Regions from separate parts of the Homo sapiens genome. Here region 2 is linked to region 1. Evidence: fine-mapped expression QTL. A gene starts in region 1. The other region holds a variant in brackets. All regions are shown on one strand. Distances are from middle to middle.

Region 1 (5,378 bases):
GGTGTGGTGGCGGGCACCTGTAGTCCCAGCTACTCGGGAGGCTGAGGCAGGAGAATGGCATGAACCCGGGAGGCGGAGCTTGCAGTGAGCCGAGATCGTGCCACTGCACTCCAGCCTGGGCGACAGAGCGAGACTCCCTCTCAGAAAAATAAATAAATAAATAAATAAAATAAAAACATTATTTTACTTTATTTTTATTTTATTTTTATTGTTTTTTTTAGAGACAGGGTCTAGCTCTTGTCACTCAGGCTGAAGTGCTTGGCAAGATCATGGCCCACTGCAGCCTCAAACTCCTGGACTCAAGTGATTCTCTCACCTCACCCTCCAAGTAGCTAGGACTACAAGCACATGCCACTGTGCATGGCTATTTTTATTTTTCAGAGACATGGGCTCACTATGTTGCCTAGGCTAGTTTCAAGTTCCTGGCCTCAATAAAACATTATTTTAAAAAATCAGAGATGGCAAAGATTATGTTCCTTGTAATCTCAATAGTGGGGTAGAGAGACACTGGACACTAACAGATGCTAGGTGACTGCTTTTGGCCTTCTGTGCATTTGCACTTCACCTTTTGCATTTTTCTACTTAGCTGTTCTGGGAACATTATACATTTCCAAAGAGCTTCTTGTAACAAAAGTTACAAGAAATAAGAAACATGTATGACTTTTTTTTTTTTTTTTTTTGAGACAGAGTCTTGCTCTGTCACCCAGGCTGGAGTGCAGTGGTGCCATGTCGGCTCACTGCAGACTCTGCCTCTCGGGTTCCAGCGATTCTCCTGCCTCAGCCTCCCAGGTAGCTGGGATTACAGGCACGTGATACTATGCCTGGCTAATTTTTGTATTCTTAGTAGAGATGAGGTTCCACCATGTTGGCCAGGCTGCTCTCAAACTTCTGACCTCAGATAATCCACCTGCCTTGGCCTTCCAAAGTGCTAGGATGATAGGCATGAGCCACTGCACCCGGCCAAAACAGGTATGACTTTTAAAGAAAGCAAGGAATCATATCCTATTGTGTCTTTTCTGTCTTCGGGTGGTGATTTTAAGTACTTTGCATCATTGAAGAACTATTTAGAGAAAAATAAAGTGTGGCAATTAAAATATCAAACCCTCTCTTCTGATACCCTGATACATATGAAAAGTCAGTTTTTACTGGCCTTTTTTTCTGTTGACCATGGGAGGCAAGCACAGTGTAAATCATACCTTTGCAGTTTAGCTCATGCTCTCCTCCATTTGCACAAAGCCTGGCCATGTTCATTGCTCAGTCCACTCTCAACGCTTCTGCAAGGCTCAGCTGCAACCCTTTCCCAATTGCATTCTGTTCCTTTAATGTCTGTCCTACACAGTTCAGTAAGAAATCATGTGGCCATTTGTATTATTTTCTTATAAGTACCTTGAAGTCTGAACCTAAGTTTACCTCCAGGTGTAGACGCACCCTTTCTCTACCCCATCCTCCCCCTTTACTCTGCCCCACTAAGCAACCAATGGAGTAGAAGTAGTAAGTGCTCAATAAATATGTGAATGAAAAACCTTAAGTTCAAGGCATTTTGTATAGAATGTTTTAATTTTTATGGGTATATTTGGAGTCCTTTATTTAAGACCACAGTGCTGATGTCCACAATCTGTCACTACATAGTGCCTGGTGTGGTGGCTCATGTCTGTAATCCCAGCACTTTGGGAGGCTGTGGCGGGCAGATCGCTTGAGTCCAGGAGTTCAAGACCAGCATAGCCAACATGGTGAAACCCCTACAAAAATAAAAAATTAGCCGGGCTTGGTGGCACAAACCTGTAGTCTCAGCTACTGGAAAGGCTGAGGTGGGAGGTCAAGGATTCAGCGAGCTGTGATCGTGCCACTGCATTGCAGCCTGGGCGACAGAGTGAGGCCCTGTCTCAAAAAATGAAATAAAGTAAAAAATAAAAATAACTACATAGCGAAAATAATCAGAAGAATGTTTAAGGTCTCCAGTGAAAGGACAACAGGCTTGTTGTGCTGTTCGCAAGCACGTGTTAGATGCGATTCACTCATGTTGTTGGTGTGTCACTGGGGGTTGTGACTGCAAGTTGTCCAGGTTCTTGGCATTGTGAACAAAGAATTGGACAAAACGCCCAGCAAAGCAAAGAAAGAACAAGGCAACGAAAGAACGAAAGCAGGGATTTACCGAAAACGAAAGTGCACTCCACAATGTGGGAGCGGACCGAGCAGAGCTCAAGGGCCCGGATATAGAATCTTCTTGGGTCCAAATACCCACTAGAAGTTTCCTATTGGCCATTTTATGCTCACCTCAAACCCGATTGGTTGCAAGAAGCAAGCAGTCAGAGGCTAGGGTGAAATTACAAAGTTATACTTCTATGCAAACGAAGACTGGACCCCCAATCAGTCTGATTGGTTGTGGACAGCAACCATTCAGAGGCTGGAGTTAAGGTTCAAACTTGGCAAAGCAAGCCTCCACCAGCAGTAAGTCTGATTTGTCGGGGACAGCCAATTTCCTATCTGCCCTGCGGAAAAGGTGGGGGGGTTTGCAAAGGGAGTAGCCTTTGGTCCTTTTGTTACTTAGGCATGGAAAGTTAGGGTTTTCCTTTCAGTTTAGCTCTAGGAAGTCAGCGTGAGACAGCCTTAGGTTCCCTGCTTCCAGACTTATTCTCCTGCCTTAGGTACAGTCACTATCGTGATATTATCTATCGCTGTGTCAACACAACACCAATCCAAGCCCAACCGCAGCTCTCTCACTGCCGCACCGCTTCGTGAGGGTCGATCCGCCGGGGAGACCTGCTCTCCTGCGCTCGGGACTAGACGCGACCTCGCGGGGCTGAGGCTCTGTCCCTTATTGGCTGGGTCAGGGGGCGTGGCGCGGCTTGACCAATCGCGGGCGGCGCGCTTAGGCACGTGTGTGGACAGGCCTGAGAATCAGAGAAACCTTCTCTGGGGCTGCAAGGACCTGAGCTCAGCTTCCGCCCCAGCCAGGGAAGCGGCAGGGGAAAGCACCGGCTCCAGGCCAGCGTGGGCCGCTCTCTCGCTCGGTGCCCGCCGCCATGTGGGCCGTCCTGAGGTTAGCCCTGCGGCCGTGTGCCCGCGCCTCTCCCGCCGGGCCGCGCGCCTATCACGGGGACTCGGTGGCCTCGCTGGGCACCCAGCCGGACTTGGGCTCTGCCCTCTACCAGGTAGGCTGAGCGCCCCGGTGGCCTGGCCGCCGGTGCCAGGCTAGGAAGCAAGTGGAGGAGGGGCACGCTTCAACAACTGCTGCTCTCTTGTCCGGAGCCCCAGTTGATTCTGTGACGCACGTGAAGTTTGAAGAAGAAAAGCCTAACAGATACAAGAAAGTTTAGTTCACTTTTAGAGCTGGCACTGTACTTTGTGTCTTTGAAATCAGTGGTTCTTAAAGCCTGGTTTAGAATTGCCACCTGGGGAGCTAGCTGAATAGCTGCCTGAGCCCTACTCTGGACCTTGTGGGTCTCAGGTGGAGTCGCTGTGTTTATATTGTTAGTGAACTCATTAGGGGACTTTTGGCAGCCAGCTTTGGGAACCACTGGCCTAGAGCAGCCCAACGAGGGGCGCTGTGCTTAGGAAATTTGAGTTTAAAAGTTGATTATGATGGCCGAGCCCAGTGGCTCACGCCTGTAATCCCAGCGCTTTGGGAGGCCCTGGCGGGTGGATTACCTGAGATCAGGAGTTCGAGAACAGCCTGGCCAACGTGGTGAAACCCCATCTCTACTAAGAATACAAAAATTAGCCGGGCATGGTGGCGCGCGCCTGTAATCCCAGCTACCTGGGAGGCTGAGGCAGGGGAATCGCTTGAACTTGGGAGGCGGAGGTTGCAGTGAGCTGAGATCGTGCCATTGCACTCCAGCCTTGGCAACAAGAGCGAACTCTGTCTCAAAAAAAAAAAAAAAAAAAAGTTGGTTATGTTAATAGAAAATATCCCACAGTATCTTTGAGTGGCTTTTCTTGGAATTAGGAGGCATCATAAGGCCAAAAAACTCAAAACTTGCGAAATATCAGAGCTGGAAAATTTCACTGTGTTCCCACGATTTCTAAGCCTATACAGATAACATCTAAATAGTGCAAACAACACACAATTGTTTGTCAGTCCAGAATGTTTAATTCAGAATTATTAAGTGGTTATTGTGGTCTAGGCACTATTTTAGATATTTGGCATGGATGCGTAGGAATGGAACTAATAATTTTGTAGGGAAGATGGACAAGAAAGCAGGTAACTGTGGTACAGTGTAAGAAGGGTTGTCTAAAGCTTGAGAAGGTGGTTACAGAAAGCTACCGATAGGAAGTAATGGGTGAGATGAATCTTGGGTAAGAGCTGGCCAAGTTCAGGGTGCAGGATGGAAGGTAAGACTGTATAAACCAAGAGAGTTACAAGAACATAGGTACTGAGTTATGAAAGTGTATATCTGGTGTGAGGACTTGAATTCCATGTCTAGGACATGGAATTCATTGAATAGTGTCTGGTGATGGGATTGATTGATTATGGGGCCAGATAGAGGAGGATCTTCCATGCAAAAGCCACATTTAGATTCCATTTGGCAGGTTGTCCATTAAAATATTTAAGTAGATAAGTGGCATGATCCTATGGATATGGTAGAATCATCAGTGTGGTGGCAATGTGGAGGATGGATTGATATAGGGAAAAGACTAGACCTAGGTGACAGTGGAGAGTTGAGTCTTGAGATGAAGGAGTCAAAGTTAGAGTTGTATGTAGGAGGGGGGCATAAATACCTGAGGAGCAAAGATTATAGAGTTAATAACTGAGTGGAAGGGGAAAATGGATGACTTTGGAGTTTCCAACTGGGCAGAATATTTAGTTAGGTGGAACTGCCATTAATACAAAGAAGGCTTTGGTGATGGGTTTTGTATGAATCACCTTTTGCTAGGTTGCGCTTTGTGTAACAAATAATCAAAAAATCTCAGTAACTCACAACAGTAAATATTAGTCTCTCACTTGATTTTGTTTTGTTTCTTAATCTCTCACTCGTGTTGGTGGCCTTTGGTTAGCTGCTGCTGTGACTGTTCCACTGCAGGGTAGGTTCAGGTCTGCTCCATGTGTCTTCCCATTCCTGGACTGAGGCTGAAGAGCAGCCCTGAATTAAACATGCCCTTCTCATGGCCGAAGGCACAGGAGCAAGAGGCTGAACACAAATTGGATTTAAAATCCTTGCTGGCATGTGATGAAATTAATGTGTGCTCACATTAGACAAAGCAAGTCCATGAGGGTGGGGGAGAATGGGATGAATGATCCAGTTTAGCTGTGTTTCCTGATTACAAATAAAAGCAACTATAATAAGTAATAATAATGGCAGGAATTTTATAGTGTACCCACCATTTTTCTAAAGGCTTTATGTGGTTTTACTCATGTATTTATCATAATGATCCTGTGC
Region 2 (5,378 bases), 96 kb before region 1:
TGAGACAGGGTCTCACTTTGTTGCCCAGGCTGGAGTGCAGTGGCCTGATCTCGGCTCACTGAATCCTTCACTGCTCGAGTTCAAGCAGTTCTTTCACCTCAGCCTCCTGAGTAGCTGGAATTACAGGCATGTGCCACCATGCCCAGCTAATTTTTGTAATTTTTTTGTAGAGATGGGATTTTATCATATTGGCCAGACTGGTCTTAAACCCCTGACCTCAAATGATCGCCCACCTTGGCCTCCCAAAGTACTGGGATTGCAGGTGTGAGCCACCACGCCCAGCCAGAACTTTTTTTTTTTTTTGAGACGGAGTTTTGCTCTTGTTGCCCAGGCTGGAGTGCCATGGTGCCATCTCAGCTCACTGCAGCCTCCACCTCTCCAGTTGAAGCGATTCTCCTGCCTCAGCTTCCCAAGTAGCTGGGATTACAGGCAAGTACCACCACACCCAGCTAATTTTTGTATTTTTAGTAGAGACGGGGTTTCACCATGTTGGCCAGCCTGGTCTTGAGCTCCTGACCTCAAGTGATCTGCCTGTGTCAGCCTCCCAAAGTGCTAGGATTACAGGCGTGAGCCACCATGCCCAGCCCAGAGTTTTGCTCTTGTTGCCCAGGCTGGAGTGCAATGGTGCGATCTTGGCTCACTGCAACCTCCGCCTCCCGTGTTCAAGTGATTCTCCTGCCTCAGCCTCCCGAGCAGCTGGGATTACAGGCGCCTGCCACCATGTCCAGCTAATTTCTGTATTTTTGGTAGAGATGGGGTTTCACCATGTTGGCCAGGCTGGTCTCGAACTGCTGACCTCAGATGATCCACCCTCCTCAGCCTCCCAAAGTGCTGGGATTACAGGTGTGAGCCACCATGCCCAGCCTGTATTAAATGCATTTTCAATTTACAGTATACTCAACTTATGATGGGTTTATTGGGATGAAACCCAGTGTAAGTCAAGGAGCATCTCTATATGTAACTGTTTTTGTTTAATAAAAATGAGATTTTATGTGTATCTTGTTCTGCTTGGTTTTTTAAATGCAACAATATGCTTTGAAATTTTTCACATGACTACATATAATCTTACCTCATTATTATTATTGGCTCCGTGGATTTTTATATATTATTTAGTCATTTCCCATTAGACATTTTAGGTTGTCTTTAGGTTTTTTGTTCATACAAATAAATAATACAGAGGACATCTTTGAGTCTCTTTCCCACCTTTACAAATTTTTCTTTAGGTTGTTTAAATATTTATAGTAATTTCTCTTGTTTTCAGTGAAAAAAGTTGCCTGTGAAGGAGTGAATAATGATCCAGATGAGTCTATGAGTTCTAGAATTTCAGACACGGAAAGATCTCAGAAGGATGCTCAGACAGTTGAAGAAGAGTCTCTGACCTTATCAAGGGAGGATGCAGAGCAGGTTGCATTAGAAGTAGACCTAAATCAAAAGAAAAGAAGGAGGAAGAAGCAAGATGGAGCTAATGAACTGGGAGTAAACAATCTTTTAGAAAATGCCACTGTTCAGGCGGGTCCTTCTAAAGGAGAAAAACACAAGAGTAAGTTTCTTACATATTTAAAAAGCCTCTATATTACTTGAGAAGACATGTACAGTAATATGGTATGTAACTTAATTTTCTGTCTAGATAGCAATTAATGATGCTTATTAATTGGTTCTGTACTAATGGTACTGTGCTAACGCTGTTTATTTTTAATTAAAAAAGTTTATGTAAAAAAATTAAACAAATTAAAGTGGGGAGATTGTTCTCTAAAGTTTGTTTCTAAGATGTATCACCTCCTGTGCATTCCCATTAACTATGATTAGAAATCACATCTATATAGAGTTAAAAGTATGTTGCTATGTCTGTCAATAAAGCACAGATTTTCATGTTGTACCTCTACAGAGCACCTCTGTGAACCCACAAGGGGTTAGTTCCTATAAAAGAACTAGTGGAATATGTATTCCTTCCCTTTTTCTTTTTTACTCTTTGAATGCAAACATATTGCCACTTATGAGTTGCTTGGGGATGAGGGCTAAGAGTTTGAGGGGGAGTCTTGGTCCCTTTCCTTAAGAGTTCATATGTAGATTATTTAAAGCTGATAACCAAGGAAAAGGTAGGAGCAGACCAGAACAACCTTTCTATAAAATTTATGTTTTCTGTAGTTCAGATTTACCCATCTGATTTTAATAAAAGAGTACTGGTAGCTAACATAGTATGCTTTGTAGGCATCTCAATATTATGCTCTTTTTTGGCTTATTGG[A/G]GTCATTACGTATAATGCAGAACAGCTTAATGATTCACAACCAGGTTTTAGAAATCAAACAGACCTTGCTTTAAATTCCAGCTTTTTTACTTGCTTAAGTATTGCATTGGGAAAGTTACTTAAGATCTCTGAACTCAGGGGGTTCTCTATGAGGTTAATGTTAATATATTTTAATAGGATTGTTTCAAGTATTAAATGAGATAATGCATCTGATGGACTTAAGGGTTCCTGCCGCTTAGTAAGTACTTAATAAATGATAGCTATTACTGTGTTACTAATTAGTATACTTCTGAAGGAGCAAAAGAATAGTTAAGTCAACTTTTAGTTTCCCTACTTGACATATAAAATAAGCCACTTTAAATACTTAGAATTTAAGATAAAAGGAAGATGCTACAAATTGCCCAAGAAGCTTGAGCTGATCCTCATATATGTTAAGTTTTTATTATGGTCTAAAAATAAGATGTGTGCCTTGCAAATAGGGACTTGAATGTTGCTTAAGGTTTTGTAGGAAAAGAGTGTTATAGGTAAATTCCTTTGTGCTCTAAAAAAGATGTTTTTGCTGTCATTTTTTAGAATAACATGCATTTTGTATTTGTAGATAAATGTCAGGCTATAAGGCCTGAGCTAAAGGAAGGTGAATGCAGTAAGGAGCAGATGCTTTCCTGCACACAAAACATAGATGGCATTGTGGGTTTTGCCTCCACTGAAAAAGTTGAGAAAAGAACTGACCCCATCCTTTCATTAAGGTATTTTCTGTGTCTTTTCTGGTTTTATCCACATCTGTTGATTACTGAGAAAGGAGTGTTGAAGTCTCCATCTGTAACTGTGGATTTGCCTGTTTCTTTTTTTCAGTTCTATTTGTTTTTGCTCCATATATTTTGAAGCTCTGTTGTTAGGTGTGTACATATCTAGGATTGTTTTGTCTTGGTGAAATTCCCTTTATCATTATGTACTATCCTTCTGGTATTGCTCTTTTTTTCTGATGTTTACTTTGCTATTGTAGCTTTCTTTTGGTTGGCGTTTGCATGGGTTTATCATTTTCTGTAATGATTTTCTCTATTTTTGGTTTTCGTTAGTTTGAATGTGATGTGTCTTGCTGTGTGTGTGTGTGTTTTTAAATTTTATTTTGTAATATAAAATCATGAGATTTACCCTCAATAGATTTTTTATGTGTACTATACAGTGTTGTTAACTATAAGCACAGTGTTGTATTGCTGATCTCTGGAATTTTTTTTTACCTTGCATAACTGCACCTCTATACCTATTGAACAGCAACTCCTATTTCCTCCGCCTCCCAGCCCTTGGCAATCATGATTCTTTCTTTGTTTTGTTTTGTTTTGTTTTGTTTTTGAGATGGGGTCGGTCTCTGTCACGCAGGCTGGAGTGCAGTGGCACGATCTCAGCTCACTGCAACTTCCACCTCCCAGGCTCAAGCAATCCTCCCATCTCAGCCTCCTGAGAAGCTGGGACCACAGGCATGTACCACCATACCTGGATAATTTCTTGTATTTTTGGTAGAGACAGGGTTTCACCATTTTGCTCAGGCTGGTCTTGAACTGAGCTCAGGTGATCCACCTGCCCTGGCCTCCCAAAGTGCTGGGATTACAGGTGTGAGTCACAGCGCCCAGCCTCATGCAGTATTTTTCTTTCTGTGACTGGCTTATTTCACTTAATGTAATGTCCTCAAGGTTCATCCATGGTGTAGCATATGAGAAGATTTCCTTTTTTATGAGCAAATAATATTCTAGTACATGTATAGACCACATTTTCTTTATGGACATTTAGGTTGTTTTTGTCTGTTGGCATCACTGAACATGGGAGTGCAAATATCTCTTTGAGATCCTGATTTCAGTTCTTGTGGATAAATACCCAGAAGTGGGGTTGCTAGATCATATGGTAGTTCTACTTTTAATTTTTTGAGGACCCTCCATACTGTTTCCAATAGCGGGTACACCATTTTACATAACCACCAACAATGTACAGGGTTCCAGTTTTTTTCACATCTTCTTCAATACTTGTTATCTTTTATTTTATTAATAATGTCCTTCTGAACAGGTAGAAGGTGGTTTCTTATGGTTGTTTTGATTTGCATTTCCCGGATAATTATTGAGTTGAGCATCTTTCATAGCTGTTAGCCATTTGTATATCTTCTTTGGAGACATGTCTATTCAGGTCCTGTGCCCAATTTTTTAATTAGGTTATTTTCTTTTTTGCTATTGAGTTTTGAGAATTATTTATATAGTTTGGATTTTAGGACCTTATCAGAAATATGATTTACACATTTTCTCCCATTCCATAGGTTGCCTTTTCACTCTGCTGTTTCCTTTGGCGTACAGAAGTTTTTTAGTTCAATGTAGTCCCATTTGTCTAATTTTGCTTTTGTTGCCTATACTTTTGGTGTCATATCTAAGAAACTGTTGCCAAAAACAAACTTAAAGCTGTTTACTATTTTTAAGCATACAATTTAGTGGCATTATTTACATTTACATTGTTGTGCAGCCATCAGCACTATTTCTAAAGCTATTTTATCACTGGAAACAGAAAACCTGTACCCATTATGCAGTAATTCCTCATTCTCCCCTCCCTGCAACCACTGATAATCTCTAATCTGCTTTCTGTTTCTCATCCAAGTATTAATCAGGACCAGACTTGCTTAGTTTGAGATCAAATTAGGCTCATTGAGAGCGGTAAGGATGTAGACAACTTTCTGTCTCTATGACTCTGTCTAATCTAGATATTCACATAAGTGGAATCATATGCTATTTCTCATAGTTGTTTGTTCCTAGGTGACAGATAATCTAAAGTGTGAGTTCAGAGATACACCTAATTTCATAAACTACACAAAACTGTACTCGTGACTTTTTCTAATTTTTAAAATAATTAAAAAATGTTGTGACAGGGTCTTACTCTGTTGCTCAGGCTAGAGTGTAGTAGCGTGATCACAGCTCACCACAACCTTGAACTCTTGGGCTCAAATGATTCTATCACCTCAGCATCTCGAGTAGCTGGGACTACAGTCATGGGACACCATGACTGGCTAATTTTAAAAACATTTTTTAGTAGAGATGTTTTCCAGGCTGGTCTCAAACTCCTGGGCTCAAGCAATCCTCGCACCTCAGCATGAGCCACTGTGTC

What was found. PIP is the estimated chance that this variant, and not a neighbour inherited with it, causes the effect. A credible set is the group of variants that fine-mapping cannot tell apart.
Region 2: its variant is the best candidate, but not a certain one, in a credible set for the expression of MCCC2 in whole blood (TOPMed, PIP 0.72).

Annotation. Positions count from the first base shown.
Region 1 is chr5:71,584,403-71,589,780 of GRCh38, forward strand. It overlaps MCCC2 (methylcrotonyl-CoA carboxylase subunit 2), which reads left to right and starts at 2,938. Exons shown (of 17, transcript NM_022132.5): 1 at 2,938-3,152. The coding sequence starts at 3,024. RefSeq lists an enhancer at 2,597-3,383.
Region 2 is chr5:71,488,143-71,493,520 of GRCh38, forward strand. It overlaps BDP1 (BDP1 general transcription factor IIIB subunit), which reads left to right. Exons shown (of 39, transcript NM_018429.3): 10 at 1,262-1,540; 11 at 2,842-2,989. Among named protein-coding and RNA genes, the nearest start is that of BDP1, 35 kb to the left of the region's middle. The variant A/G (reference allele first, on the strand shown) is at 2,244.